Regions from separate parts of the Homo sapiens genome. Here all the other regions are linked to region 1. Evidence: fine-mapped expression QTL. A gene starts in region 1. Each other region holds a variant in brackets. All regions are shown on one strand. Distances are between the middles of the regions. Region 1 holds the start of HM13 (histocompatibility minor 13). Region 2 holds the start of HM13-AS1 (HM13 antisense RNA 1). Region 3 overlaps HM13 (histocompatibility minor 13).

The links. PIP is the estimated chance that this variant, and not a neighbour inherited with it, causes the effect.
Region 2: its variant is fine-mapped to the expression of HM13 in whole blood (TOPMed, PIP above 0.99).
Region 3: its variant is fine-mapped to the expression of HM13 in whole blood (GTEx, PIP above 0.99).

What each region holds. Positions count from the first base shown.
Region 1 is chr20:31,510,095-31,520,360 of GRCh38, reverse strand. HM13 (histocompatibility minor 13) reads right to left here and starts at 5,919. Exons shown (of 13, transcript NM_178581.3): 1 at 5,627-5,919. The coding sequence starts at 5,809. It also overlaps the pseudogene CD24P3. RefSeq lists a silencer at 5,253-5,322.
Region 2 is chr20:31,564,126-31,574,391 of GRCh38, reverse strand. It overlaps HM13 (histocompatibility minor 13), which reads right to left. Exons shown (of 13, transcript NM_178581.3): 11 at 8,097-8,182; 12 at 6,168-6,314; 13 at 4,849-5,272. The coding sequence ends at 5,173. It overlaps HM13-AS1 (HM13 antisense RNA 1), which reads left to right and starts at 1,129. Exons shown (of 3, transcript NR_046853.2): 1 at 1,129-1,250; 2 at 1,469-1,593; 3 at 6,444-6,805. LOC107985416 (a long non-coding RNA gene) reads right to left here and starts at 1,382. Exons shown (of 3, transcript XR_005647051.2): 1 at 954-1,382. RefSeq lists silencers at 850-1,429, 4,492-4,786 and enhancers at 1,231-1,772, 7,440-7,579, 6,853-7,728, 7,729-8,604. The variant A/C (reference allele first, on the strand shown) is at 5,291.
Region 3 is chr20:31,553,493-31,563,758 of GRCh38, reverse strand. HM13 (histocompatibility minor 13) reads right to left here. Exons shown (of 13, transcript NM_178581.3): 8 at 8,930-9,013; 9 at 4,112-4,148; 10 at 2,023-2,125. Among named protein-coding and RNA genes, the nearest start is that of MCTS2, 11 kb to the right of the region's middle. RefSeq lists enhancers at 1,975-3,174, 8,510-9,009. The variant GAGA/A (reference allele first, on the strand shown) is at 5,207.

The sequences.
Region 1 (10,266 bases):
CTGCACTCCAGCCTGGCCAAAGAGTGAGACTCTAACAAATGAACAAACAAACAAACAAAAACAACAACAAAAAAACAAAACCTCTGGAGAACAGACTACTCCACAGCCATTAAACAAGAATTGAGGTCATTGCTGGTGGGAAAGTAAACTGATACAACCTCTATAGTGGATCATATGGTAAAATCTATCTAAATAAAAAGTGTGGGCTGGGAACAGTGGCTCACGCCTGTAATCCCAGCACTTTAGGAGGCCAAGGCGGGCAGATCACCTGAGGTCAGGAGTTTGAGACCAGCCTGGCCAACATGGTAAAACCCCATCTGTATGAAAAACATAAAAATTAGCCAGGTGTGGTGGGTGCGCGCCTGTAATCCTGTAATCCCAGCTACTCAAGAGGCTGAGGTGGGAGAATTGCTTGAACCCAGGAGGCAGAGGTTGCAGTGAGCTGAGATGGCACCACCGCACTCACACTCAGCCTGGGCAACAGAGCGAGACTGTCTCAAAAAAAAAAAAAAAAAAAGTGTGCATAGCCTTCGACCCACCAATTTTGAGAAATTTATCCCACAAATACACAGACAAGTGTGAAATAAAAATGTATAATGTTATTAATTTCAGCATGGTTTGTAATAGCAAAAGACTGAAACAACCTAAATGACCAGTTGGGGACTCAAATTCTCAAATTTGAGCATGCATCAGAATCACCAGGTGGGCTTGTTAAAACACACATTGCTGGGCCCACCTTGAGCTTCTGATTCAGAATGTGCATTTCTAACAAGTTCTGGGGTGATGCTGACACTGCTGGCCCAGGGACCAGATACTAGAGAACTAGCATTCTAAGCAAACTGGAGTACAAGTGGGATACCATACAGCTGTTAAAGAACACACCCACCCCCTATGTACTGACATGATTGGATCTGCAACACACATTAGGTGAAAAAAGCAAGGTGCAAGGAAGAGTGTACTGGCCAGGCGTGGTGGCTCACGCCTGTAATCCCAGCACTTTGGGAGGCCAAGGCGGGTGGATCACCTGAGGTCAGGAGTTCAGGACCAGCCTGGACAACCTGGTGAAACCCCATCTCTGCAAAAATACAAAAATTAGCCAGGCATGATGGCAGGTGCCTGCAATCCCAGCTACTCGGGAGGCTGAGGCAGAAGAATCGCTTGAACCCAAGAGATGGAGCGTGCAGTGAGCTGAGGTTATGCCATTGCACTCCAGCCTGGGTGACAGAGTGAGACTCGGTCTCATTAAAACAACAACAAAAAAAATCAGGGAAAAGTATATGCCTATTTATTTGTAAAGACACAGAATCTTTCTGGATGGATATCTAAGAAACACAGGAGAGGGGCTGCCTCTGAGGAGGGAAATAGGGCAGCTTGGGGTAGCAGGGAGACTTTCACTGTGCACCCCTTTGTACCTTTTGAATTCTGTACCATGGGCATGTATTACCTACCCTCCCCACCATAAAAGATGAGGTAGATCTCTCTCTCTCTCTCTCTATATATATATGTATATATTTTTTGAGACAGGGTCTCACTGTTGCCCAGTGGTGCAATCAGGGCTCACTGCAGCCTTGAACTCCTGGGCTCAAGTTATCCTCTCGCCTCAACCTCCAGAGTAGCTAGGACTACAGGTGCATGCCATCATGTCTGGTTAACTTTAGGTCTATATGTACTGACATAGAAAAATAATGAAACATATTATTATTATTATTATTTTTGAGATGGAGTCTCACTCTGTCGACCAGGCTGGAGTGCAGTGGCATGATCTCGGCTCATTGCAACCTGTGCCTCCCGGGTTCAAGCGATTCTTGTGCCTCAGCCTCCCGAGTAGCTGGGATTACAGGCGTGCCCCACCACACAAAGCTAATTTTTGTATTTTTAGTAGAGATGGGGCTTCACCATGTTGGCCAGGCTGGTCTTGAACTCCTGACTTCAAGTGATCCACCTGCCTCGGCCTCCCAAAAGTGCTGGGATTACAGGCATGAGCCACTGTGCCTGGCCAACATATTGTTAAAGAAAAAAAAAAAATTGCTGGGCGCGGTGGCTCATGCCTGTAGTCCCAGCACTTTGGGAGGCCGAGGAGGGTGGATCACCTGAGGTCGGGAGTTTGAGACCAGCCTGACCAACATGGAGAAATCCCGTCTCTACTAAAAATACAAAATTAGCCAGGCGTGGTGGTGCCAGCCTGTAATCCCAGCTACATGGGAGGCTGAGGCAGGAGAATTGCTTGAACCTGGGAGGCAGAAGTTGCAATGAGCCAAGATCACGCCATTGCACTCCAGCCCGGGCAACAAGAGTGAAACTCCATCTCAAAAAAAAAAAAAAATCAAGTTGTAGAGAAATATGTACTATATAATCCAATTTTTATAAAAATAAATTTACATGTCTATATACACAGACACATATACAATGAATGTGTAAACACAGAAAAAACTCTCAAAGGTTATATACTCAACAGCCAGTTGGGTTACTTCCAAGGAATAGTGCCCAGGAGGCTTTTCCTTTATACTTCTGCACTGCTTGATTTTTTTTTTTTTTAACAAGTGTATAGTATTTTTGTAACAATACGATTAACCGCTGCATTGCTTTCAGGATTCTCTTCCCCAGAAAGGCCACGGGCTTCCTGAACATCTTGTCACTACATCCAAGCCCCTCTCCTGGGCTCACACCACACTCTTCACTGCCTCCCTGAACACATCTTGTGGTCCCCTGCCCCACCTTCTCCTGCTCTGCCTGTTGGACTCTCCCAATCCATGCAGAGACAACTGCTGCCCCCTCCAGGAGGCCTATCAGAGCTCTATTTACTTGACTAGTCACATGTCTGTTTCTCCTTGGTGACTGGGCTCAGTGAGGGCAGGGCTTGGCCTTCTTTGTCCCGGAACTCCTGGTACCCAGCCCAGAGCCTAGCCCACAGCAGGCACCCAGTCCTGTTCGCTGAGGGCCCTTTAAACCAATGTTTAATGTGCAGCTACTGCCTGGGTCATATTCGCTTCTGTCTGGGATATAGGACTCTGACAGTGATGGGTGCTGCTCTGAGACTGCTCCTCCCAAGGCTACTTCTTCACAACATACTCCTGGAGGCTCTACCTTCTTTCTCTCCATGATTTCACAATTTTCCCTGCCTGTTATGGACACCTTGACCCTTGGGGATTCTGTCCTCACATTCCCTCTCTCCCAACTGGTTTTGGGGTCCAACACTGGTGGGAAATCAAAACTGGGTCCCCACACTAACTCTTCTCTCTCCTTTTCACATGACCAGGGAAACGACTCAGGGTAGAAGGGGAGTCATTTGCCCTGTCCTTTCCCTAGGTCAATGCTGCTTGTCTTTAAAGGTACCTGTGTTAGGAGAGAGCCCTGGATGAGGACTAGGCATACCTGATTCTGCCCCTAAATGGCAGAGTGATCTTCAGAAGTCATTTCTTTGACTCTCAGTTTCTTTTCCTGTACAATGAGGATAATGAAACTGGCTCTGCCTGCCACCTCAGTTGCTGTGAGCATCAAAGGGCGTCAAGGTTTTGCAAGCTTTACCGCATCTGGGTCATTGGTGGTGGCAGGCTCTTAATGGTCAGGTCCTGTTTGTAAATTCATACAGTCCTCCACACCCTGCTGCCCTGCAGGAGATGCTTGGGAGAGGTATTCAGAGGCTAAGGCTTTCTCCTATCCATACCCTCTGTTCCAGCCACACCAAACCTTCCACTATTTCCTGAACTGCCTCGTAGCCTCCTGCCTCCGTACCTCTCTCTGCTTACCTGGTTTCTTTTGCTTAGAATGCCTTCTCCTGGCTGAAATTCTACCTCTACGTCAAGGCTCAGGCCTACCTCTAGCACAAAGCCTCCCTGCATTGTCCCAGATGTGCTCAATCTTTCTCCCTAAACCTTGTAGCATTGCTTGTAGTATAATCACAATCTAGTTATTATTCTTTCACCTACGCTCCCGAATTCCTTGGTGACAGGGCTCTGACCTACTCATCTTTGCAGCAATCCTCCCTTACCCCTGACAGTGGTGGAAGTTCAGGAAATACTGTTGCCTGGAAGGTGTTTTCTGCAGAGATTAGTGATCCATGTACAGAAGGTGCCAGGGAGAATTACTCAGTTTGGAGAGCAGCTCAGATCAAGCTGCCTAGCCTTATGCCAGCTGTCCTTCGCCTCCTCTGTCCTGGGTTATCTCAGAACTGCTCTCTACACTAAGTGTCTACCTGACAGGCATAGTAGAGAGGCTTAATATCACCTGAACTCAGCTTAGAAAAAGCCAAATAAAAAGGAAAATGGAGTCATGTTTGAGTCTCTCAGCCTAAGCCCCGCCTAACTACTTTCCTTTGCATCTGATCGCATACAGAGCCAGTAGTGAGTTCTCTGCTCCTGGGGAAGGAAGATGGCAGGCCTCAGCTACTGCTCAAGTTGGGTAGTGTTTTGAGAACCTCAGCTTCAGCAGTTTCAAAAGTGGCAGCTGCTTTGTGGGCCTGCCCTCTTTGGGCAAGACTTCCACTTAGGTCCATCCTCAGGTCTGGGTGGGGGAGGAGCATCGGGAAGGTGCAGATTAAGAGGTTGTGGAGGAAGGGAGAGGGTGCCAGGAAGTGAAAAGTCATTGGTACAACGGGCTAGAAAGGGCTTAATATAGGGAAGAAGTGGGGCAGGGAAGGGGGAGGGAGAAGCAGAAGGTGAAATGTGCTGGAGTCCTCCTAGTTATCCAATAGGACAGATGTTGAGGAAGGCCAGGGATGGAGTCTGGCCCAGTCTCACAAGAGGGGCCAACAGTGGCCCAGCAGACAGGCCCAGTTTGGTGGGGGGATTGTCTTGGGGGTATGGGGAGAAGGGCTACTTTGAGATAGGGTCAAAGGCTGGGTGGGAAAAGGGTTACAGGTTAGGAACAAGGTCTAGGTTTTGACTAGGCCATGTCCAAGGTTGGATGGTAGTTAAGAGAGGAAACCAGGAAAATAAGACGTCCATGCCTAGTTGGAAAGTAGAGGCACCAAGATGCCAGCTTCTGAGGAGCCAGCTGACTGGGATGGTTCCAGAAAGTGATGTGAAAAACTGGGCTCTAAGAGATCATTGTTTTTGAGGCAGGGGCAAGGGCCAGGTGTGGGGGATCTAGGTGAGCACATAAGGTGCCATAGATTCCAGTGAGACAGGAGTCAGAGTCTAGGGATGGGTCTGGATGGTAGAAAGGGCCCTGCGGTGGGCTGAGGCAGGGTTCCTAACAGGGAATGACACGAAATTGTACCATTCAGTAAGTTGTGAGGACCAGTATCCATCAGGTATACATGATGGGGCTGATCTGCCTGGGCCCAACAGGCTCAGAACAATCAGTGCCCGAGTCGCAGTGGGGGACGGGCTGACAGCGTTCCCAGCCGCGGCATGATGCACAGGGAGGGAAGTGTCAGGGTCCGGGTCGGGAGCAGAAGCAAGTTCCTATTGGGGAAGGTATCATACCCTGGTCGGGGGTCGGTGCCCAGATCCCGGGGTAGGAAATGCCAGCCCCGGAATGTGGGCCCGAGACAGAGGGAACGGTGGTGATCAGGGCTGGGAAGAGTCAGTGTCCGGGGAGAGGTGTCTGTCCCGCCTAGGAAGGGTCCATGTCGGCCGTGTTCGGTATGGGGGTGGAAAGTGCCCGGTTTTCCCGCTGACCCTACCTTGCCGCGGGCGCAGCGTACGGAGCGCAGGGCGCCGAAGAAGATGGGCAGCAGCGCCATGAGCAGGAGGCTGCCGTAGGCCAGCGCGATGCCCTCGGGCGTGGAAGGCGGCCGCGTAGTGCTGTTGGTGGGGCCGCCTGCCTCGGCACTGCCGTTATGCGGATCGCTGAGGGCCGAGTCCATGGCGAGGGTGCGTTCGGGATCCGACTCCAGCTCCGGTTGCTGCAGCAGGGACGCAGGCGGAGACACCGGCTCTGCAGGGAAAGCCACGTTCCCCTAAGGCAACAGGAAGTGACGTGCTCCCTCCCAAGCCCGCGCCGCGCACGCGCGCACACACGCTTGCACGCACGCGCGCGCGCGTGCACGTCTCCCCGCCCGCTCGCCCTCTAGCGGTGGCCGAGGGCCGGGCGGCGGGTTGCTAAGCAACTTGTTAGCGGTCCGGACAGGGGCTCTGGGCCACTGCGGTGGGCATGCGACCCGAATGCCCATTTCCCAGTCCCAGCCGGTCTCCTCAATCCCCTGCTGTCCACTCTCCGCAAATCCTCATATTCCGAATAACTAAGAATGTGTTTATTCATACATGCATTTATTGGGTATCCAATTGTTTATTCACTCCTTAAATATTTATTGAATGTCCCTCAATATGCCAACAACTGACCTAGGCTCTGGGGACACTGAGGTGAACAATACAGGCAAAAGTTCCTCCTTGCCTTCGTGAAGTTTGCATTTTAGTGCAGTGTGTGTGGGGGGACGTTGGGAAGACAATAAAGAAACTGAACAAAATAAAAGTCTGTAAAATGGGCTGGGCGCAGTGGCTCACGCCTGTAATCCCAGCACTCTAGGAGGCCGAGGCGGGTGGATCACCTGACGTCACGAGTTCGAGACCAGCCTGACCAATATGGTGAAACCCCGTCTGCACTAAAAATACAAACAATTAGCCGGGCGTGGTGGCACGCACCTGTAATCCCAGCTACTCGGGAGGCTGAGGCAGGAGAATCGCCTGAACCCGGGAGGCGGAGGTTGCAGTGAGCCAAGACTGAGCCATTGCACTCCAGCCTGGGCAACAAGAGCGAAACTCCGTCTGAAAAAAAAAAAAAAAAAAAAAAAAAAAAAGGCCAGGCGCGGTGGCTCACGCCTGTAATCCCAGCACTTTGGGAGGCCGAGGTGGGCAGATTGCGAGGTCAGGAGATCGAGACCATCCTGGCTAACACGGTGAAACCCCGTCTGTACTAAAAATATAAAAAATTAGCCGGGCGTGGTGGCGGGCGCCTACAATCCCAGCTACTTGGGAGGCTGAGGCAGGAGACTGGCTTGAACCTGGGAGGCGGAGGTTGCAGTGAGCCCACTGCACTCCAGCCTGGGCGACAGAGTGAGACTCTGTCTCAAAAAAAAAAAAAAAAAAAACAAGAAAAATTTGTAATTTGTAAAACGTTAATGTATAGTTATGTGTTACATAGCATGTTAATGCAGATAAATAGAGAAAAATAAAGCAAAAGAAAGTAAGGTGTGTGTGGAGTTTGCAAATGTATTGAGAGCCTACTATGTGCCAGGCAATTATAATACCTTACGAGTTCATGCCCCTGTACAATTTATAAAGCTTTGTGGCTCTTTTCAGAATTTGAAGAATCTGTTTATTTATGTGATTCTTATTTTTGATATTGTTAAAAAAGTTAAAAATATATATTTTCTTAGACATGGGGTTTTGCCATGTTGGCCAGGCTGGTCTCAAACTCCTAGGTTCAAGTGATCCTCCTGCCTCAGCCTCCTAAAGTGTTGGGATTACAGGTATGAGCCACTGCTTGCAGCCTACTGTGGCTATATTAGATACTGGAACATCTAAGCATCACTGTGTGACTGTGCAAACAAAAAACTTCAAGGAGGGCCTATTATTATTATTATTATTATTATTATTTTGAGACAGGGTCTCACTCTGTCACCCAGGCTGGAGTGCAGTGGCATGATCACAGCTCACTGCAGCCTCTACCTTCTGGGCTTGGGTGATTCTCCCACCTCAGCCTCCCCAGTAGCTGGGACCACAGGTGTGTGCCACCACGCCCGGCTAACTTTTTGTGTTTTTAGTAGAGATGGGGTTTCGGCATGTTGCCCAGGCTGGTCTCAAACTCCTGGGCTCAAGCAATCTGCCCACTTCGGCCTCCCAAAGTTCTGCAATTATAGGCATGAGCTGCCACCTCCCGCAAGAGTGCCTATTTTATTTTATTTTATTTATTTTTTATTTTTTTTTTTGAGATGGAGTCTTGCTATGTCACCCAGGCTGGAGTGCAGTGGCACGATTTCGGCTCACTGCAACCTCCAGCTTCCGGGTTCACGCCATTCTCCTGCCTCAGCCTCCCGAGTAGCTAGGACTACACGCACCCGCCACCACGCTCGGCTAATTTTTGGTATTTTTAGTAGAGTCAGGGTTTCACCGTGTTAGCCAGGATGGTCTCGATCTCCTGACCTCGTGATCCGCCCGCCTCGGCCTCCCAAAGTGCTGGGATTACAGGCATGAGCCACCGCGCCCGGCCAAGAGTGCCTATTTTAAAAAAGATTTCTATGTGTTGAGGCAGTTGTTTACTGCAGAATTAAGCCCACTTTAGGCTTACTACCAGCTTCTATCTAAAAATATTGACTGATAACCGAAAGTGTTCTAAAGGTGGTTATTCTGATCTATAGTTTTTTTGTTTGTTGTGAGACTGAGTTTTGCTCTTTTTGCTCAGGCTGGAGTGCAATGGCGCAATCTCGGCTCACCACAACCTCTGCCTCCCTGGTTCAAGCGATTCTCCTGCCTCAGCCTCCCGAGTAGCTGGGATTACAGGCATGCGTCACCACGCCCAGTTAATTTTGTATTTTCAGTAGAGATGGGGTTTCTCCATGTTGGTCAGGCTGGTCTCGAACGCCTGACCTCAGTGATCCACTCGCCTCGGCCTCCCAAAGTGCTAGGATTACAGGCGTGAACCACTGCGCCTAGCCTCTGATCTATAGTTTTTTAAAAAAGTATTTACAGAAAGTATAGAAGTTTTTGTGAATTTAATACAAGTTAGCCTCCAATTTTCTCTTCTCAAATGTTTGATTTATAGTTTTTGCTCCTTTACATATTTGCTTTTTTAATTTCAAGATTTGTAATTTTACCTTCAAAACAGTTCATTTTTAAAATTGTAAAGCATGTTTAACATACGCAGAAATAGGCTGGGTATGGTGGTTCACGCCTGTAATCCCAGCATGCTGGGAGGCCGAGGTGGGTGGATCGTGTGAGCCCAGGAGTTAGAGACCAGCCCGGGCAACATAGCAAGACCACATCTAAAAAATAAATAAATAAATAAAAAAAAGTCAGTATTTTGAAATTATTTGAGCTCAATGCAGTTCTACTCTTTGGAAGCAGATTAGCTAACTGAATCTGGTGCTCTTGTTGAATAGAAATAGGTGATGGGAAATGTCTATCATTTGACTTTATAAGGATAAGCAAGATTTACCATGATGCTTTGATTTGGGGGTGGATTCCAGTCCATCATTGCCCTGGCACATGTCAATTAGTACACACAAAATTCAATGTCAAATCCAGAGCCTCAGAGGAAAAAATTTATTCCCCAAGAGAACAATGATAACATAACAAAGTAAAATGTTATCTAGATTATATTGGTATTAAAATTATCTCTTATATAAAGTATATTGACTGTAACTATACATAGAAGATTCATAGTAACACCTGGAAGTTCCTTCTCATGTTATATATAAATTGAATTATGAAAGCTTTTTATATTACCTGTTTATGGCCTTATAGATTTAATGTACCAAATGAAAACTTCCCACTCTACCTCTAGATAAGATAAAATCTATATTTATTTTCAAGGTAGAGTTTTAAGTGGCCATATTTCTTAAGCCGTATTCAAAGGAAAATTTTATTTCAAGGCACATTTTCACTCTGTCACCCAGGCTGGAACACAATGGCATGATCACAGCTCACTGCAGCCTTGACCTCCTGGGCTCAAGCGACCCTCCCACTTCAGCCTCCCGAGTAGCTGGGACTATAGGCATATACCACCATGCCCAGCTAATTTTTCCATTTTTTATAGAGATGGGGTTTCACCATGTTGCCCAGGCTGGTCTTGAATTCCTGGGCTCAAGCGATCTGCTCACCTTGGCCTCCCAAAGTGCTGGGATTACAGGCATGACTACCATGCCTGGCCACTCAAGGAAATTGTGTCTTAACTAAGTTTGAATGCTGTTCCTCTTCATTTTGTATATGAAACTTCAGCTGATTTAATATTGACATTCATCATCTAGTCAAACCCTTCACATGTTCTTCAAACCAACCAAATTTGGGGTTCTTGACATTTTCTGTGTCAATAAAATTAGATGTGGATCTTATCTTTTTTTTTGAGATGGCGTTTTGTTCTGTCACCCAGGCTGGAGTGCAGTAGTGTGATCTTGGCTCACTGCAACCTCTGTGTCCCGGGCTCAAGCAATTTTCCTGCCTCAGCCTCCTGAGTAGCTGGGACAACAGGCACCCGCCATCACGCCCGGCTAATTTTTGTGTTTTTAGTAGAGATGGGGTTTCACCATGTTGGTCAGGCTGGTCTCAAACTCCTGACCTCGTGATCTGCCCGTCTCGGCCTTCCAAAGTGCTGGGATTACAGGCGTGA
Region 2 (10,266 bases), 54 kb before region 1:
GCCTGTCTCAAAAACCAACAAGCAAAATACCCACCCACACACAGCTTAGTTTACATATATAGCAAAAATCTTCTTCCAAGCCACCTAACTCCTTTGTATATTCCTTGCCCTCAAATTTACTCAAAATAGTATCTCCCTTTTTTTAATATTTTGGAGACTCTTCCATAAATATCTATTGAGAACACACTATGTGTGATTTCCATGTATTTATTTATTTTACTTAATCCTCACAGCCATTATGTAGACGAGGAAAGTGAAGCTCAGAGATGGGAAGTCACTTGCCTGAAGCCGCAGGTTGGTAAACATTAGACTCTAGGTAATTTGATAATTTGTGTCCATTTATGAAGTGCCTGCTGTAGCCAGGCCCTCAGGATTGTCCCAAACCTTTATAGTCACTCTTACAACAAATACTGAGTGCCTTCATGTTTCAGGCAATGGGCCAAGTGTTGGGGCTACGGTGGAGAGGAAAACAAAGGCTTAGCCCATGGTTGAGGGAGGTTCAATTGTTCACCCCATTTTTCAGGTAAGAAAACCAAGGAAGAGAAGGGAAAGAAAGTGTCCTGAGATCACACGGTCACACGAAAATAGCTGAGGCACGGCGCGGTGGCTCACGCCTCTAATCCCAGCACTTTGGGAGGCCGAGGTGGGAAGATTGCTTGAGCCTGAGTTCGAGACCAGCCTGAGCAAGAGTGAGAACCGCCGTTTCAACTAGGGGAAAAAAAAAAAAGCCAGGCGTGGTGGGACACACCTATATTCCCACCTGAGGTGGGAGGATCGCTTGAGCCCAGGAGGTCGAGGTTGCAGTGGGCCGTGATCGCGCCACTGCACTTCAGCCTGGGCGACAGAGTGAAACCCTGCTGCACAAATAAAAGAGAAAAGGGAAAAAGAGCGGAGACAGGCAGCCCCGCTTTACAGGTAGGGAAAGTGAGGCACAGAGAAGTAAAACGACCTACCCAAGGAAACCCATCTAGTAAAGGCAGGGACCGGGATCGCAGGCTCTTGGAGCTCACCAGTCCCCGCCGGGCGGTGCTTGGCCCCTCCTTCCCCTCCGGCGGGCGTGGCCCGGCCGGGCCCGCCCCCTCCCCTGCGCGCGTTCCTGGCAGCCCGGCCGGCGTTTCCTGCCTGCGTCGCTGAGCTGGCGGGCGGGCAGCCCATCTGGCGGCCCCCGCGGGGCGGCGCGGGGAGGCGGCCCAGACTTGCTGGAGCCAGGCGCCGGCCCGGGGGCCCCCCTGCCCGCCTGGAGAACCCAGGTGTGGCCGCGGCGGGGGTGGGGGGTGGTGCTTTCCTTCCCGCTCGCTCGGCCCTTCCTGACGCACCAGGGCAGGATGCAGCCTCCTCCCGTCCTCTCCTCGGCCTCCGCCTCCCGCGCCCTGGCCCGGAATGCTGGAGGGAATCCAAACGCAGGGCGGGGAGGCAGGGGCAGGCCCCTGAGGCCCCGCCCCTGATAGCCATTTGATACCACCGCTAGTCTTGCCCGTGTTTGGGGTGACTCAGCTTCCCTGCTTGTGCAAGAACAGCTGAACTCTGACCTCCTGAATGGCCGACTCTTGCCTTGCTCCTCAGGGACCCCAGACACGATCGTAGGAACCGGAGGTACTACTGCCCTAAGCCATAGCGCTTGACATTATCCATTTATTCAGCAGTTTCAAGTCGCGGCAAGCGGCGTTTGACCACTTCTGTTCCCTGCCCAGTGCTTAACTGGTACCTGGTGCCGGCCTGATGGAGGCTCTGAAGGCTTTCCCTCAGAAAGCTGGACCCGCCCTGGGAAGCAGGTCCTAACCCCCCTTCACAGTCGAGCACAAGACCGCTTCATTCACACTGCAGGAGCCAGCCCTGCTGTCAGACTGACGGTGCCAAACCCCCTTCTCCAATGCTGCCCCCAAAAGGAACCAGGGATCCATTATCCTGATCATGTCAAACGGCACCACGGTGAATACGAGTCTTGGAAGCCAGACACTCTGGGTTCACATGCCCCCTGGGCCCGCCCTTACGGTCTCTGCCTCAGTTTCCCCATCGTAAGAATGATGTAGGTACCTCAAAGTGTTGTTACAACGATTAAGTAAATCTTAAGATACATTTGAAACTTGAACACGGGTTTCAATTGTGCAGGTGCACTTAAACGTGGACTTTTTTTCTACCTCTGCCACCCCTGAGACACCAAGACCAACCCCCTCCTCTTCCTCAACACAGAGACCAGGATGAAGATCTTTATTTATGATGATCCACTTTCACTGAATAATTTTTTTTTTTTTGAGACGGAGTCTCACTCTGTCCCCCAGGCTGGAGTGCGGTGGTGCAATCTTGGCTCACTGCAACCTCCGCCTCTTGGGTTCAAGTGATTCTCCCACCTCAGCCTCCTGAGTAGCTGGGACTACAGTCGCCTGCCACCATGCCAGGCTAATTTTTGTATTTTTAGTAGAGTCGGGGTTTCACCATATTGGCCAGGCTGGTCTCGAACTCCTGACTTTGTGATCCGCCTGCCTCTCTCGGCTTACTGCAAGCTCTGCCTCCCGGGTTCAGGCCATTCTCCTGCCTCAGCCTCCCGAGTAGCTGAGACTACAGGCGCCTGCCATCATGCCCGGCTAATTTTTTGTATTTTTAGTAGAAACGGGGGTTTCACCATGTTAGCCAGGATGGTCTCGATCTCCTGACCTCCTGATCTGCCCATCTTGGCCTCCCAAAATGCTGGGATTACAGGCATGAGCCACCATGCCTGGCTCTTAGGATTTTCTTAATTACATTTTCTCTAGCTTACTCTATGGTAGACAGTGTAGTACGTATAACATACAAGATGTTTTGACTGTTTATGTTATCAGGTAAGGCTTCTGGTCAACAGCAGACTATTAGTTGTTTTGCGGGACTGAAAAGTTATACAGATTTTCGACCATGATGGGTTGGTGCCCCTAATCCCTGTGTTGTTCAAGGGTCAGTTGCACTAGCATAATGCTAGTCACGTGAAATACAGTCAGTGCACACTGGGGTCTCAGCAGGGCTGGTTTTCCCCTTGGAACCCTCTCTCTTGTCGCAGTCATGGGAGACTGAGGCACAGAAACAGAATCTAATAAAGCAGGGTAGAACTTGGGTTCTAGAGCAGTTTCCTAATAATCCACCCCAAACCAGGTGAGGCTGGCATCTAGCCCACTCGGGGCCCTGCCCAACCACCCACACCCCCTCCCCAGCATGCAGGCCCAATCCTTGCCCGGCCTGGTGCCATTTTTCCATGGGACTCTGATGGTGGCGGTTCACATCTGGAGTCTAGACTCGCAGGCTCTGCGGGCCAGGCCTACCGCCTGGGCTGGGCCACCACTGCCCGCTGTTTGCTCAGCTGAAGCTGGTTAATTGGAATTACAGTGGCCTCTGCGGTGCCGGCTGGCCGGGCGGGCCCTAGTCCGCTGCTCCGGAGGTCTGTGGAACATCTGGCTGGACCAGGACAGTCATTAGGTGGCAGGCGCTCGGCGCCACTGCCACCTCAGCCTCTGCCGGGGGCTGGTGGTGACTCAATAAGGCCTTTGTGCGCCCTGGGCCGCAGAGCCAACCATGCTATGTGCCTGGGCCGCCTGCCCCATCTGCCTCAGAGGGGCCTTGTTCCAGGACCACATGGCCTCAGAGTTGGCTGGAGTGGGTAGAGATTCCAGAAGCCCCTGAAAGGGAACCCCCCTCCCTGAAAGGAAGAAGCCTTTTGAAATTTTCTACCCCTTTTCCTTCCTATAGAACCCTGGAGCCAGTAAAATTGGGTGGCTGGGGCTCAGGGATGCCCAGCACACCAGCCAGTGACTTGGTCCCAGGGGTCTGGGGAGGAGCTGCGGTCCTTAGGAACCTGGAATTGTTTGGCTTGGCTAAGGTCAAATCGATGTCCATGGGCAAGCTGCCTCAATTCCCTCATCTGCACAGCGGAGCGAATAATAGCACATACAGCCCAAGACTCAGAAGGAAGTGAAATCCTATATCAAGGTGCTTAGTGCATGTCAATACCTAGTGAGGGTATTACAGTCATACTCCTGAGTCTCTGGTCATGATTGTCCTTTGGCCACTTCCAAACTGGAAGCCACTGTTATTTTCAGCCTTTGAACCTGAAGCTTGGGCAAGGGAGAGCCCCGGGTCTGTCAGTATGGTGGCCACCCGCTCCTGTCTGTTTCCCCACTCAGTGACCTCATACCAGGTGGGTGGATGAGGGTTGTGGCCACCGTTTGCCTGGTTTGGGGTGGTGCCCGGTCGGTCTCCTGCTGGCCGGGGCTGCTGTCTTCAGCAAACTTTAGGGAAACCCGGGCGCTGAGATTTCAGCTCTTAGGCCCCAGAAGGCCTCTAAGAATCACTAGCTCAGTCCTTCCCCACCCCAGCCTCTAGAGGTCCTGGCCCTTGTGCCATGACTGGCCCCACAGTAGTCATTTTGGGAAGAAACCCAGGAATGGGCAGAATGGGAGACAAAGCCTTGATCTTCAGGGCAACCTAGAGTCTGAGCCCTCATCAGCCGAAGCCATATGGGCACAGGGACCAGGGAGGCTGGCAGGTTCTACAGTTACTGCTTCCCTTGTGAGTCAGGTCAGCCCTGGGTACTCCCCACCACTCTCACCATGGTGAGTGGGAGACTCTCATCTGCCAACACCCTTGCTGCCCCCAAGTATTTCGAGGAAGGTGGTGAGAAAAGTGCTAGCTGGTGAGAGAGGGCTCGTGGGCCCCCTCTACTGGCTAAAAGGTGTTTTACGGGTGCAGGGCTGGCCAGGCACTGGGGTGGGCACCCTTAAGGGGCTTGCAGAAAAGATTTTGGGTGGGCAGGTGAGACCTAGAAAACCCAGGGCAAGACACTGGGTGCTTAAACAGAGAATCTTCCAGGAGCACAGTGGCCCGCCCTGGCCATGGGATGAGTTTTTAATGTGAGGCAAAATCAGTCCACAATACAAAATCTAAAAATCACACCCACTTTTCCCACCTGGCTCCCGGGGAGGGGGGAAGCTGGGGGTTTCTTTTGCCTGCAGGGTGTGGGGAGGAGCAGAGGAGGGCCAAGAAAGGGAGAAGGAAACAGAGGCCACAGAGGCCTGGCTGGAGGTATCCTGCTGCCCCCTGCCCTGTCCTGGAGCTGCCCTTGGCCTCCTGTGCCCTCTACCGGTGCACGCCTGTGTGGGCCCAGCCCCCATCTGTCTGGTCTGGCCCTGAGAGGCTCGGGCACCAGCTGCATCATTTCTCTTTCTTCTCCAGCCCCTTCGATGCTGATGCCTCTGTTCCCTCTTTGGATTCTGTCACTGCCGCTGGATCCTTAGGATTTGACTCCTCATAACTGACCAAAAAAAAAAAA[A/C]CAACAATAAAAATTCATTTAGAGGAGAGGGTGAGCAGAACCTTGGTTGTCCCCTTCCCCCACCCCCATCCTAGGAAAGCGCCTGGTCACATGCAGAGCGTCAGCCCTGTGTCCACTGCCCAGCACCTAACAGCGCCTGGCCCCAGCCCTACCACATGCCCTCCTCAGGCAGGCTGCTCTGCTTTCTCTGAGCCTGGGGGTACCAGGAGGCAGCAAGGGCAGCAGCCAATGGAAGAGAGGTTGGGCCTGGGCTTGTGTGGGCTGATTTCAAGCTTCCTGAACCTTCTGCTGTAGCGTGGAAAAAGGGGTGGCCATGACAAGGCTACAAGAGATGGAGATAGGCTGCCTCCCAGGGCACACAGCATGAATCAAACAGCTCAGCCCCAGAGGTGAGGGCACTGCTGTACTGGCAAGCGGCAAGGTGCTGCTCTGAAGACAGACACCCTGGCTTAGCTTCTTCTATGGGCTTCATTTTTCAAGCAACTGAGTTCATGCCAAAGATAATACAAATCTTTCCTCACCAGATAAACCCCGTGAGGCAGGAATGTGCCCACTTACAGATGAAGAAAGTAACTTGCCTAAGGTTATACATATACCTTGAATGGTAACAGTATCTACTACTGCATGACAAGGGCCATTTCCATCCACTATGATGTGGGCCCCGCATTACTGGTGAGGGCAGGAAGCTTCGGGGTTGTCCTGCTTCCCAGCCCTATGGCTCGGTGCAACCACTGCCTGGTGGTTGTGGAGGAGCTGCTCTTGCGGCCTACTCCTGGCAATGGTCCCTGCCCTATGCACTGGAGCTGCAGTGTCTGCCCTACCTTGGGCCCCGGGGCAGTAGGGGGAAGCGGGCAGGTGGGCACCCGCTGGGCATTACATGGCGCTGGGATTCTGCGGGCGCCGGCGGCGAGGGCCAGCTAGCTTCTGCTGCATGGAGTCGGCCAGGCTGGCTGGGGAGCCCGAGACTGTGGGGAAGTGGGTGAGCCTCGGGGTATGAGGCAGGATTTCCGCCGAGGACTCGTAGCTGTGTGAGAGAGAGAGAAGAGACAGAAAAAAAGAGATGGATAGGGAAAGACTAAGGGAGGACAGAGACTTCCTTTCCAAGGAGCAGAGAGCAGAACTGTCTTGTTTTTACCTATTTTTGCACTTCCAGATTTTATGGAAAGAAGCTGATATTATTTGGAGAATGAAAAAAGAAAGATGCACCTAGACAAAGGCACATCAGGCCACTGTGCAGAAGAACAAGCATGCTCTAGAAGTGTATGTGCTGCTGTGGAAACACCTCTAAGAAATACCGTAGAAACCCAATGTGCAGAATGCTCCAAGAATGCCACCGTCTGTGCAAGAAAAAGTATACACACATCAGTGCACAGGTGTCTGAATGTCTGTGTAACACTGCTGGCCTCTGTGGGGTAGCTGGAGCATGAGGGTGCTCTCTCTGTTACAGCTTTGGAATTTTTAACTATGTGAATGTGGTACCAATATAAAAATAAGTAAATCAATAAAAAAAGGAGGAGAATAGAAGGGAAAAGTAAAAAGGTGGAGAATTGGGAGAGAAATGGGGAGAAAGGAGGGAGAGAGAGAGAGAGAGAGATCACTTGCTTTTTACCCCAATCTAAGAATGTCCAGGGTGGGAGTGGAGGGCAAACAGTGGGGGCAGGGTACCTGTATGGCAGAGCATTTAGCACCAAGCAGGTAAAGGCCAGGGGCACCCTCTGCCTTGTGTATTCAGAGCTTTGCCTGATGAGGGCACAATAGCATTGGGTGGTTACCCCAAGGGGAGGGGCAGGGAAACCTGGGCTGGATGGGAAGCAGAGGGAGGGTGAAGGATGGGTGCTAAGCTCAGGGATCGGGTGCCATGCCTGCTCCCAAAGCTCCCTGAGACCTGTCCCCAAGTTCACCCCTAGCCCCCACTTGCCTCAGACCACAGAGCTTTGCTGGGCGAGGCAATGTGGGCAGGCAGGCGGGGGGCTGGGGATTCTAGACAGGACAGGGAGGGCAGAGGCAGGTCCGGGGGAGGGGTGAGTCACAGGCTCCCCTGCGGGGAGCCAGGTGCACAGGAGGCCCTGGCAAGCGCTCTAGGGACAGCTTGGAGGCCAGGCAGGTGGAACTGGGCGGAAGGCACCCGAGTAGGCAGCTTTAATCGCAACTGACAGCTATTTCTAGGTCCCTGGCAGGCAGGGTCGGCAGTGCTGGGGGCAGACACCTGTTGGAGTCACGCAGGCCTTGCGGTATGGGTGGGGCTGTGTGCAGGGTGTGGTAGGTGTGGATATGGCCCTGGGGAAGGGGTATCTGTGTGAGATACAGATATAGAGAAAGCAGTGAGCTGTGGGTTAAAGCCACAGAGGTGAATGAACAGGGACTGACACCTGCCTTCTACTCGGGGCACTTTCTACCACACTAGGGCATCCCACACGCCCCCTGTTCTATTACTCACATGTGAAAACTGAGGCCATGGGAGGGGAAGACATGCCTGAAGTCACCTGGGGGCAGAGTCACCTAGGACTTCTGACAGTAGGCAGAGAAAAATCCACAACAGCTATTCTTAAGATCCAGCTAACATTTGGATGGGGGATGCCTAGAGGGCTCTGATGCCTTGCGCTCCCCTGGCTCCTGGCCCAGGGTAAGGTTCCCACTGGTGTCCACAGGCCAGGTACCCATGTACTGCTGAAAAAGGCAAGGGGTGGGGCTGGTGGCAGGAACAATGTTCCCCTGGAGAGGTGTAAAGATACCCCCAGCAGGTTCCACTGACTGCCAGCAGGCACACTGGTGCCCATGAGGACATCTGCCCCCCACTCTGCCTTACCTGAACATCTCTGTCACTTCTCCCTTGGCCAGCGCCACCAGGACAGGAAAACCGATGCAGGCGGGGACCAGGTATAGGAGGGCAGGCTATGAGAGGACACAGGCTGGTGAAGCCATGCTGGGCACGGCACTGCCTCAGGGCCGTGCCCAGCACCCCAAACCCCTTCTGGGCTGGACTGAAGGACAGTGACTGGTCCAGGACCATAGCAAGTCAGTGGCTGGGCCTGAACCCAGGGCTCCTAACTCCCAGACAAGGGTTGCTCCTCCCGAGAGGGAATGCAAGAAAACTAAGAAACTCAAGTAGGCAGGGCTTCAAGGGTTCCCAGGGGTTTGGCTGGCAGCATCTGAATCACCTAGGTCACCAGGTTCAAAAAGCAACTTCCTGGTTTGGTCCTACTCCCAGAGACTCTGCTTCCTGAGGTCTGGGGCTCACACCTGCATTTTAGCAAATGCTCCAGGAGATGCTATTATAGTGATGATGACACCACAGCTGCTATGTAATAACTACTTGTTGCAGCCTGTATTAAGGTGACCTAGCTGGTCACTGGCTCCCCCAGGATTCACACCCAAGCAATTTGGCATGTCTGTGCTGAGACTCCTGGTAAAGCTGGGTTTGGAGAAAAGGACGGTTATACTAAGACCCTGTTCATGAACATCTACTGTGCAGGCACTGAGCTTAGCCTTCCCAGGAAGTCAGCCCACTGCCACATCCCATGATGGTTATCCTTTTGCAGAGGAGGAAGACCAATGCTTCACAAGGAGAGGGAAAATAGCCCAGGACTCAGAGACCCAAATCTTTTTTTTTTTTTTTTTTTGAGACAGAGTCTCTGACTCTTGTTGCCCAGGCTGGAGTGCAATGGTGCAATCTTGGCTCACTGCAACCTCCGCCTCCAGGGTTCAAGCGATTCTCCTGCCTCAGCCTCCTGAGTAGCTGGGACTACAGGTGCCTGCCACCACGCCTGGCTAATTTTTGTATTTTTACTAGAGATGGGGTTTCACCACGTTCGCCATGGTGGTCTCGAACTCCTGACCTCAGGTGATCCACCTGCCTCGGCCTCCCAAATTGCTGGGATTATAGGCCTGAGGCACCACGCCCAGCCCAAAGAGTTTCTTTCTTTTTTTTTTTTTTTTGAGATGGAGTCTGGCTCTGTCACCCAGGCTGGAGTGCAGTGGTGTGATCTTGGCTCACTGCAAGCTCTGCCTCCCAGGTTCACACCATTCTTCTGCCTTAGCCTCCGGAGTAGCTGGGACTACAGGTGCCTGCCACCATGCCCGGCTAATTTTTTTGTATTTTTAGTAGAGACAGGGTTTCACCGTGTTGGCCAGGATGGTCTCGATCTCTTGACCTTGTGATCTGCCTGCCTTGGCCTCCCAAAGTGCTGGGATTACAAGCGTGAGACACCGCGCCTGGCCGAGTTTCTTTTCTTTTCTTTTTTTTTTTTTTTGTGATTTTGAGATAGAGTCTTGCTCTGTCTCCCAGACTGGAGTGCAATGGTGCGATCTTGGCTCATTGCAACCTCCGCCTCCTGAGTAACTGGGATTACAGGCATGCGCCACCATGCCCGGCTAATATTTGTATTTTTCAGTAGAGATGCGGTTTCACCATGTTGGCCAGGCTGGTGCACTTGAGTTCTTTCACATGGAGTCAGGTCCCTTGCTACGTGCTCTGTAAGTCCCTCTAATTTCCCTCACAGCATTCCTCAGCAATTTTTTTTTTTTTGAGACAGGGTCTCACTTTGTCTCCCAGACGGAAGTGCAGTGATATGAACATGGCTCACTGTAGCCTTGACCTCCTGGGCTCAAGTGATCCTCTCGCCTCAGTCCTACAAGTTGCTGGGCCTACAGGTGTGCGCCTCCATGCCTGGCTAATTTTTGTATTTTTTGTAGAGACTGGTTGTCACCATTTTCCCCAGGCTGGTCTTGAACTCCTGAGCTCAAGTGATCCACCTGCTTTTGCCTCCCAACGTGCTGGGATTATGGGTGTGAGCCATCGTGCCTGGCCTCCCCAGCAATTTGTAATGGAACATCCCCATAGGTGGTGAGTTCAGTGAGGGCGGGCCCACAGCTGTCTTGCTCACCGTAGTGTGCCCTGCATACTGAAGAGGGCCTGGTAAATACTCAGTGAATGGCTCCTTCATGGTGCGTCTTCATGGGTGCTCATGAAGTGAAGA
Region 3 (10,266 bases), 43 kb before region 1:
CAGAGAACAAAGAAGTCTTTCCCGCATGCCCTTGATCCTAACATTCAGACTTATTTCTTGCCATCTGTCATAGGTGGGCTGTGATCAATACTGCTTTATGTATATTAAATTATTGAATCTAACAATCCCTAAGTAGGATGGGTGTGGTGGCTCACGCTTGTAATCCCAGCACTTTGGGAGGCTGAGGTGGGCAGGTCAGTTGAGGTCAGGAGTTTGAAACCAGACTGGCCAACATGGTGATACCCTGTCTCTACTAAAAATATAAAAATCAGCTGGGTGTGGTGGTGCACGCCTGTAATCCCAGCTACTTGGGAGGCTGAGGCAGGAGAATTGCTTGAGCCCAGGAGGCGGAGCTCCAATGAGCTGAGATCACACCACTGCACAAAGGCAGAGGTGACCCTTACCTAGACCAATGCTAGCACTGGGACTACCTGTGTGTTGGAGAGCAGGGGACCCCATGGGACAGGGTCCCCTCATGTCCTGGATCCCCTTTCCAAGGATTTTCAGAGAGGTACCCACTTGGATGACTGGGGAGAAGGGCTGGGCTGCTGCTGGGGAGTAACACAGGCCTTGGGGCAGGGTTCAGGAGTTCATTAGTCTGGAGTCCAGATCGCCACCCAGGGCCCAGCCTGATGTAGTGTTCGCGTTCTCTCAGCGCTGCAGTTTTCCGATAAAGGAGAGGACTCCTGTGTGCCAGAGCTCTGAATGGGAGCCTCTTCTCAGTCCAGCCAGGCAGAGGGTGAGGCTGCCACCTTATGGCCACTGGGGGAATTGGCTCTGGGCTTGGACTCCAATAAGGGGCCGGGAGCTGCAGAGACCTCCAAAAGGTCTCTTAACTAGTCCTCCAAACCAGGTCCAGTCACTCTCTGTGACCCTTGCCATACGCATGTTACTCTCACCTTACACGCCATTGAAGCCCTTGAGCAGAAGTGAGAGGCAGTTCCACAATGGTTGTTCTTGGTTTTTCTAATTATGGGCTAGGGGCCTTTTGACCTTCTATAAAGTAATACTGTACTAGGACTAAATGAGTTATTAGCAAAAGAGTTTAGCACAGTGCCTGGCACAGAGTGATTAAAAAAACCCCAGCTTTTGTGATTAATTCAAAGATGGCTCGTCTGTATTTGGGCCCTGGGGAAGGGGAAAGGGGACAGAAGCAGCAAGCCCAGAGTTCCATGGTTACTGGGTGGTGCTGGGATTCACAACAGGGCTCCCTTAGCCCCTGTTCAATGCTGCGTTTCCCATGGCCAGGGCTTGAGAGCCTGGGTGTGGTTTCCATGCTGACCCAGGTTTGAATCCTGGCTTTACCACATACTTGCAGTGTGTCACCTGAACTCCAGTTTCCCCACCTGTTCACAAGGATCCTCATGAGTGCAGAGCCTGACATGTGGAAGTGCTTAACAAACAGGAGCTCTTATTATTTCCAGTAGAAAGTAGGGCAATCCTGTCTGCTCACTTTCCCCTGAATCTTCCCCTCTCCAGGCCACACTGAGGGCTCCCAGTCTTTGTGCTATGTTGCTTCATTCTGTGGCAGCTCAGTACTCCATCCTCATCTTGGTGGGAGAAGGAGGCAGAGCCTGGTCTACTAGGGAGTAGGGGGAGGGACGCCCCAATACCCAACACCCACTCCAATCCTGTTCTTCTCTGCCTGCTTCCCACTACCAAGGCTGAGAAGCCAAATCCTCTTTCCTGGACTCTCCTGTAGCCAGGGTGGCTTTAGGACCCCAGTCTGGCCCATGAGATGCTGAAAGGGTTCTGGGAAAGTTCCTGCCTTCCTGATGAAGGCAGCAGGCATGGCTGTTACGCTTTTCCCTCCTTCTTGCCTCTAACGTGCCCATGCTGCCTAGAGCAGTGGCAGCCATCTTGCAACCACAAATGGAAGGCCAAGAGAATCACAGACATGACTGCTCCAACACCAGTGGGGAGTGCCTATCTCTGGACTGCTTGCATTTACAAATAAATCCCTCTGTAAGTCCCTCTATTTGCAGTGAGGCATTCCTGACACTCTGATACCGTCCTGCCCACCTGAGCATGCTTGAAGATGTGCATGATGAAGATGGTAAGGCCCAGGCCGAAGATGTAGGCTGCAAAGCTGGTGTAGAAGTAGGTGTGGGTATTCTTCTTCAAGCTGCAGGGAAGGTGTGAAGAAAGAGGAGGAGGGTTAGATATAGGGACTGAACTAGTAATACCCCTTCTGAGGGAGCTGGGGAAGACCCTAGAGGTTGTGGGGGGGTGACTGAGCTCTGGGCTGGGAGTCTGGAGGTGGGTGTGCACGCTGATACTGCCCCCAGCTATGTGTCTCTGGACAAGTTGCTTTCCTTCTCTTAGCCTCAGTTTACTCATCTGCAAAATGGGAAAATGAGCTCATCTCCTTGGTAGTTATGAATATCAAATGCTGCAACTTATAACAGTGGCTGTAAGACTTTAGTCAGCATAAAAATCATCTGGAAAGCTTGTGAAAAAATGCAGGATTCTAGGTCCCACCCCCAGGGAGTCTGATCTAATAGCTCTAGAGCAGGGCCCAGGAATCTGCATTTTGAAAAAAACATCTGAGGTGAATCTCATACCGTTGGATCATGCTTTGAGAAACACAGATACAGAAACTGCAAAGATAAGTTACTACTTTTAAGTGCAGTGGACGTAATAGTTCAATAGCCTATTTGTGGTACTAACTAGATGCTGGCTGCATGAATAAATGCCAGTGGCTTCCTGGAGGTGATTCATCCAAGATCAGCTTCAGAACAGATGAATCATATACAGCCCGGCATTGCCATTACGTGACTTCCCTCTCCAATGCCAGCTCCGTAACCTCTGCATGTCCCCAGCACCTGGGATGTGCCCAGCCAGTACTATGGACTCAATTAACATTTGTGGAATGAATGAGTGCTTCTGACCCCCTTCTCTCCTTGTCCTGGGTGCTTCTAAGCCTTCGGCTGCAAGTACCTTGAGAACTCACCTATCTTGAGAACTGGGATACAAGTGACTCCCTTTGGGAATGTTGCACTGATTCTGGAAATCAGCTGAGGAGCTGCTTATGCTGTGAGCCCAGGCTAAAAAATGAGACTCTGTCTCTGAGGGTGCTGGCAGTTGAATCTGTCTCCAGCAAATAGCCTGGGGGCTTCTTATGGGTTTCACTTTGTATTACCTCTGAACAGCCAGGAGTAGAGACGGCTGGCACAGACATCCCTCTACTTACAGACTGGCCAGGTCTCTTCCAAAGGTGACTGTGAGCCCATATGCTCCTAAGGTTTGAAGTGGCACTACACAAATAACCCAGGTGTATGTGAGTGGGAAAAACCTAAGTTTCACATGGAAACTGGATTTCAATGATGCTGGTAGTAAGTTTCTCATTACCACTGTCACTGTTATTACTGCTTTTGCAACTATCAGGCATGAGGAAATCAAGAGAAGTTCACAAACCACCTCAAAGTTAAGTGCAACATTGCCAGCCCTCACAGGGATGACGGGGCATAAAATGATGGAGCTGTTGCTGGCGCCCCCTGCTGACGGCAAGTCCCATTGCATAGGTGCATTAACTTGGATAAGACCTTTCTTGTGTTTTAAACGCTGACCTAAGTTGCCCACCTTCTCCCCCTCGTGCTCACTGTCTACAACAGACTGAAAAATGTCTGAGTAAAGAGAGGGCAGGGAACAGCTAGAGCAGCTGAGACATGGTGACCTGACGCTAGGCTGATAAAAGATGATGATGATGACTGCAACCAGGATTCAACCAAGAGCGACTGAGGTCAGTGTGTGCTCAGCACTCTCTCCAGATTTTCATGGTAGGAACTCTTGTTATTAACTCAAGATGAGAAACCAGAGGCTCAGGAAGGTCAGGCCACTTGTCAAGGTCACACAGTGAGAAAGCACTGTGAGTACCACCAGGCCCTTGTGGGTTTAAATCTCTTGGCCTATGATTCTTAAAACAATTTTTTGACCACAGGCTCTTCAAATACTTAGAACTTCAAGATGCAAAATGCAGATAAAATCAGAATTGCTCTGGCTGCTGTGGGGGTGGAGGGTCTGGTCTCCTGAGGTACCTTCTCTGGGCTCCTGAAGGCCACTGGAGAATCCCTGGAGAAGCCCATGCTGGGGCAGGCCCTCACTCACTCACCTGATGTCAAAGCGCAGCAGCAAGGCAATGAAGATCCCTGTGGGAGAAAGCTGGGGTTAGAGAGTGGCAGGGAAGCAGCAGGGCAGTGAACTAACAGGAGACTGGGTCCTGGTCCCCAACCTGGTGTTCCATCTTGGAGCAATCATTGGAGACCAAGGGTGTGGCCAATACTCTCAAGTGACAGCAGAAAGTCCCATTTCTCTACCTAGAACAATGAGAGGGGCCCAGGATTTTGCTTTGGCCTGGGACTACAATGACCCAGCACCTCACCGCATCATACTATGTCACACCGTGTCTGCCCAAATGCTTATCAAGTGCCTATGTACCAGGCACTATGGGAAATGTAGGAGTAGGCAAAATCGCTGCTCCCACAGAGCTCAGCCAGGGGGACAGGGTAGCCACACTATGACATACCTCAAATAGTCACGGAAATCATTGTGAGATTGTGACTGTTAAAGAGTGCTTCCACTTTGGAAGGCAGAGGTGGGTGGATCACGAGGTCAGGAGTTCCAGACCATCCTGGCCAACATGGCGAAACCTCGTCTCACTAAAAATACAAAAATTAGCCAGACATAGTGGCATGTGCCCGTAGTCCCAGCTACTCGGGAGGCTGAGGCACAAGAATCACTTGAACCCAGGAAGTGGAGGTTGCAGTGAGCCAAGATCGCGCCACTGCATTCCAGCCTGGTGACACAGCGAGACTCTGTCTCAAAAAAACAAAACAAAACAAAACAACAACAAAAAACAAAAGCAAAAATTAGCCAGACGTGGTGGCAGGCACCTGTAGTCCCAGCTACTCGGGAGGCTGAGGCAGGAGAATCGCTTGAACCCAGGAGGCAGAGGTTGCAGTGAGCCGAGATCACGCCACTGCACTCCAGCCTGGACGACAGAGTGAGACTCTGTCTCAAAATACAAAAAACCCCAAAATGAGCTGGGCATGGCAGTGCACGCCTGCAATTCTAGCTATTGGGAGGCTGAGGCAGGAGAATTGTGCTTCCCATGTTGTAAGAAGGTGTAACAGGATGAGACCTAGGCTGGGCAGGGGTGAAGGAGGGGAAAGAAGGAAGGCTTCTTGGAAATGCCACACGCCAGGAG[GAGA/A]GAACAGCATGTGCAAAGGTCCTGGAGAAAGAGTGCTCAGGAGATGTGGCAGGGACTGAGGGGTCACTAAGGCAGCTTGCCTACTGGCAGGAGATGAGGAGATAGACCAGCCCTGCAGGGCCCCGAGGACCATGGGGAGGAGTTGGGTCTTTATCCTGAGTGAAGAGACGCACTGGAGGAGTTCTGAGCAGAACAACCTAAACACATTTTGAAAAAGGCCCCTGTGGCAGTGCGTGGCTGGAGGGGGGAGGAGGAGGGGCAAGCAGTGGGCTATTTGAAGGCTCCACAGGAGCACAGGAGAGGGTTACCTCGGTCCACCCACTGCACTCTGAAACTTGAAAACCAAGCCAATTGTAAGCAATGGTTCTGCTAAAAAAGAAAAAAGAAAAAGAAAGAGACATCCCGGAAGCCTAAGCAACCCCAAAACACAGCCAACCAGTCCTGTCCCTGTGCTATACGCACACCCTGTGTGTCGCCTCCCTTACTGGGCTCTGGGCTCTGAGTCTCATTTACTTGAAGGAAGGCGCTGAGAAGCACTGCCTGGCCGGGTGCGGTGGCTCACGCCTGCAATCCCAGCACTTTGGGAGGCCGAGGCAGGCGGATCACCTGAGGTCAGGAGTTCCAAGACCAGCCTGACTAAAATGGTGCAACCCCGTCTCTACTAAAAATACAAAATTAGCTGGGTATGGTGGCACATGCCTGTAATCCCAGCTACTTGGGAGGTTGAGGCAGGAGAATCACTTGAACCTGGGAGGTGGAGGTTGCAGTGAGCTTAGATTGTGCCATTGCACTGCCTGGGCAACAAGAGCAAAACTCCATCTCAAAAAAAAAAAAAAAAAAAAAAAAGAAGCACTGCCTGTCAACTGTCAACATATGATTAATTTTAAAGAGGGAAATGAATTAGTTCTCAATGAATACTCTGTAGGAGTAGGGAGTTGGTTGGGGATAGAGCAGACAACTGCAGTTATTCTGGAATCAAGCTGGGAACTCAGTGCCCCCTGGCGGCTGATTTCTACGAGTGTTCTCCAACTAATCCAGGGGTCAGAGCTCTGCCAGGGATTTTCACTCCTAAAGTGCATCTGGCCTTCCAAACAACGCTCCACTGTGATCAACTTACATTTATTGTGATTGCGGGACTACTGGGGATATATATAGAGGGTGGGGAAAGGACAGATATGCCGAGATGTCCTGTGCCTGTCTCAAGCCTGGAACTTATGACAAGGACACAGGGGAAGTTTGTGTGGGTGAATGACAGACCGTGCCCTTAAGAGTGAGCCAGATGCTTTACAGGACTCCATTTCTTTTGTCTGACAGAGATGCCTTCTACTGGGGAAGCAAGTCTCCCTGCCTCACAGCACTGCAAATTATGAAGACACATGGGTGCAAGCCCATACCCTCGTGGCCTCAGGCAAGTCAAACCTCAGTTTCCTTATCTGTAAAATGGAAATGCCCTCTATCTCACTGGACTGCTGGGAGAAGTAAAGATGACATATAAAAAGTACCTAGCACCATTCTTTTTTTTTTTTTTTTTGAGATGGAGTCTGGCTGTGTGGCCCAGGCTGGAGTGCAGTGGTGCAATCTTGGCTCACTGCAAGCTCCACCTCCCGGGTTCATGCCATTCTCCTGCCTCAGCCTCCCGAGTAGCTGGGACTACACGCGCCCGCCACTACGCCTGGCTAATTTTTGTATTTTTAGTAGAGACGGGGTTTCACCATGTTAGCCAGGATGGTCTCGATCTCCTGACCTCATGATCCACCCGCCTCAGCCTCCCAAAGTGCTGGGATTACAGGCTTAAGCCACCGTGCCCGGCCGGCCACCTAGCACCATTCTTGGTACACGACAGGTGCTTGATAAATGGTAGCTGTTGTGATTACCGTCTTATTACTGCTAGTGCTGCTGTAAGGAGCAGTTCTGACAGCGTAGCCTTTTTTGCAGTTGGACAGTGCTGGTCTGAGTCCTGGCCCTGTTGCTTACTAGTGTGTGAATTTGTATCATTCCCTTTACTTCTGAGCTTCAGTTTCCTCACTGGTAAAACAGGGAAAGCCTCTGTGTCACCTCCATGTGTCACAAAATGCAACTGTCACAAATAGAAGTGCCTGTATCACCCTAGGTGATCAGAATTGCTATAATATCCTACCCTGGAAAGTAAGTCAGCCTTTAATCTGCTGCTTTAAAATAATTCCTCTTCTTTTAAAAAATATAGACGGGGTCGGCCAGGCGTGGTGGCTCATGCCTGTAATCTCAGCACTTTGTGGGGGCCGAGGTAGGTGGATCACCTGAGGTCGGGAGTTTGAGACCAGCCTGACCAACATGAAGAAACTCCATCTCTACTAAATATACAAAATCAGCCGGGCGTGGTGGTGCATGCCTATAATCCCAGCTACTTGGGAGGCTGAGGCAGGAGAATCGAGAATCGCTTGAACCAGGGAGGCAGAGGTTGCAGTGAGCCGAGATCGCGTTATTGCACTCCAGCCTGGGCAAGAGCAAAACTCCGTCTCAAAAAAAAAAAAAAAGGAGAAATAATAATTTTATATATATATATGGTCTCACAATTTGCCCAGGCCAGACCTCCTTCTTTAAGAGACAGGGTCTCACTCTGTCACCCAAGCTGAAGTGCAGTGGCACAATCATAGCTCACTGCAGCCTTGAACTCCTGGGCTCAAACGATCCTCCTACCTCAGCCTCCAGAGTAGCTGGGACTACAGGCATGAGCCACCACGACTGGCTAATTTTTTTTTTTTTTTGTAGAGATGAGGTCTTGCTATGTTGTCCAGACTGGTCTTGAACTCCTGGCATCAAGTGATCTTCCCCACGCAGCTTCCCAAAGTGTTGGAATTACAGGTGTGAGCCACTGTGCCCAGCTAAAACCTTCTTTTAAGCAAGCTTCTAACCCTCTCACTCTGAGGCTAGGAAGACAAGTATGTCCCTTGGGTTCACTGCCCCCACAACTGGGCCCAGATAAGCAGACACACCCGAGCCTCAGCCACTTCAGCAGCTCAGCTTTGCCCTTAGTCTCTTTCCTGACTGGTAGTTTGAGCTGCTCCTGCCCCAAAGTGAGGCCAGGCTGTGGTTGCGCAGGATGTGCTATCCTGCTTGGATTGTGGACAGGGCCCGTGTCCATACCCACAGACACACTGACTAGAACCCACACGCAGATCCAGGGGCTCAAAGGCCAGCCTCTGCAGATAAGCAGGTGTGCACGCACATGCTCCTCTGCTGAGAGTGCAGACAGGAGCCCATGTGTGTGTTCTCCCTGGAGATGTCTTGGCACAGGGAGGAGGAGCAAGGGGGCTAGGGCAATTCTGGTACATCTGTGATGCTTGCAGATGCTGGGAAGGGGTATGTGTATGTGTGGGTGTGTGTGACAGGGGTCCAGTCTGTTAAGATTGTCATGAAACGTGCTTTTTCAGAGTGTACCTCAATCTGTCATTAGACTTTTACTTTTGTAGTTCTTGAGCAACATCTGCTCACCTAGACCAGAGGCTCTGTGAAGACAGTCTTGTTCACTGACACCTGACCAGGACCCAGCTTGGGGCATGGCACCTGACTGGCCCTCCGTAAACGGATGTTAAGGGGGAACCCTTCACCAATCCCTGGCCTGATCCAGCCTTACCTTTTCTCTTTCTCAGCTGGTAAGCCTGTCTGTTTAGCAGTAATCCCCTTGCTCCGGGGAATACCCTCTCCACCCCTTTCACATAGCCCCCACACCAGCAGGCTCACCTGGAATGACGACATCTCCAAGTCCCAGCATGGCAAAGTTGTTTGCTTCGAGGCCTTTCTCCAGCAGATCCTGGGGAAACACCACTGAAGCGGGAGGCGGGAATGTGAGGAGTCAGCTGGAGCCCAGTTTACATTTTTTTTTTTTTTTGAGACGGAGTCTCGCACTGTCACCCAGGCTGGAGTGCAGTGGCGCAATCTCGGCTCACTGCAAGCTCCATCTCCTGGGTTCATGCCATTCTCCCGCCTCAGCCTCCCAAGTAGCTGGAACTACAGGCGCCCACCACCGCACCCAGCTAATTTTTTGTATTTTTAGTAGAGACGGGGTTTCACCGTGTTAGCCAGGATGGTCTTGATCTCCTGACCTCGTGATCCTCCCGCCTCGACCTCCCAAAGTGCTGGAGTTACAGGCGTGAGCCACCGCTCCCGGCCTACTTTGTATTTTTTTTTTTTTTGAGACGGGGCTTGCTCTATTGCCCAGGGCAATGAGGACTGTAATCGGGAGTGCAGTGGCACGATCTTGGCTCACTGCAACCTCTGTCTCCTAGGCTCAAGTGATTCTCCTGCCTCCTGAGTAGCTGGGATTTTAGACGCCCGCCCCATTTTTGTATTCCCAGCTTACTTTGACTCCTAACCCCCCATTCTTGTTGTATGAAACTCACACATTTGTTTCTGGGTGGGATGTGGGGGATGGGGACGTGAGAGGATGCAGGGCAATGTCTCCATCTGGAGTCACAGCTGGTTAGAGTGGGGAGGAATAGGGTCATCTAGGCTGAAGATTTAATGCCTTTACTGAGCTATAACTCAAATAACCATACAATTTCAACGCCTTTTTATAGCTATTGAACCCTTTGGTTAAATGGGATTGACCCTAAAGCCCAGTATATAAAAGAAAAGAGCCACACAGTGCCAACATCTACAAGGTTTCCCATCTCACTATAACAGGGGTATGGACAGATGTTGGCCCTTGTTCTGAAGCAGGGTGAGCCCGGGCTATAAGCTCCTTCTGTATTTGCTGAGGGAGAAAAGGCTACACACCCGCAGATTGCTTCCTTAAAGCCCCTCACTCAGAAATCTTGCTGGACAGCTTGTCTGGATAAATACAGATTAGGGAGAAACGCCTCCCTCTGTGTCTAGTTATAGCAAAAGGAGGTTATAACTGGATTTCATCCATAGGGCCTTGCAAGCAGAAGAGCAGTTATAAGTGGGCCTTAGAGGCTGACTTGTGGGTCTGTAGGTCTGAATCCTAGTTCTGTGCTCTGCACAGGTTACTTACCTGCCTTAGTTTTGTCACCTGTGAAACGGGTAGACAACAGAACTGACCCCTCAGGGTGATAGTG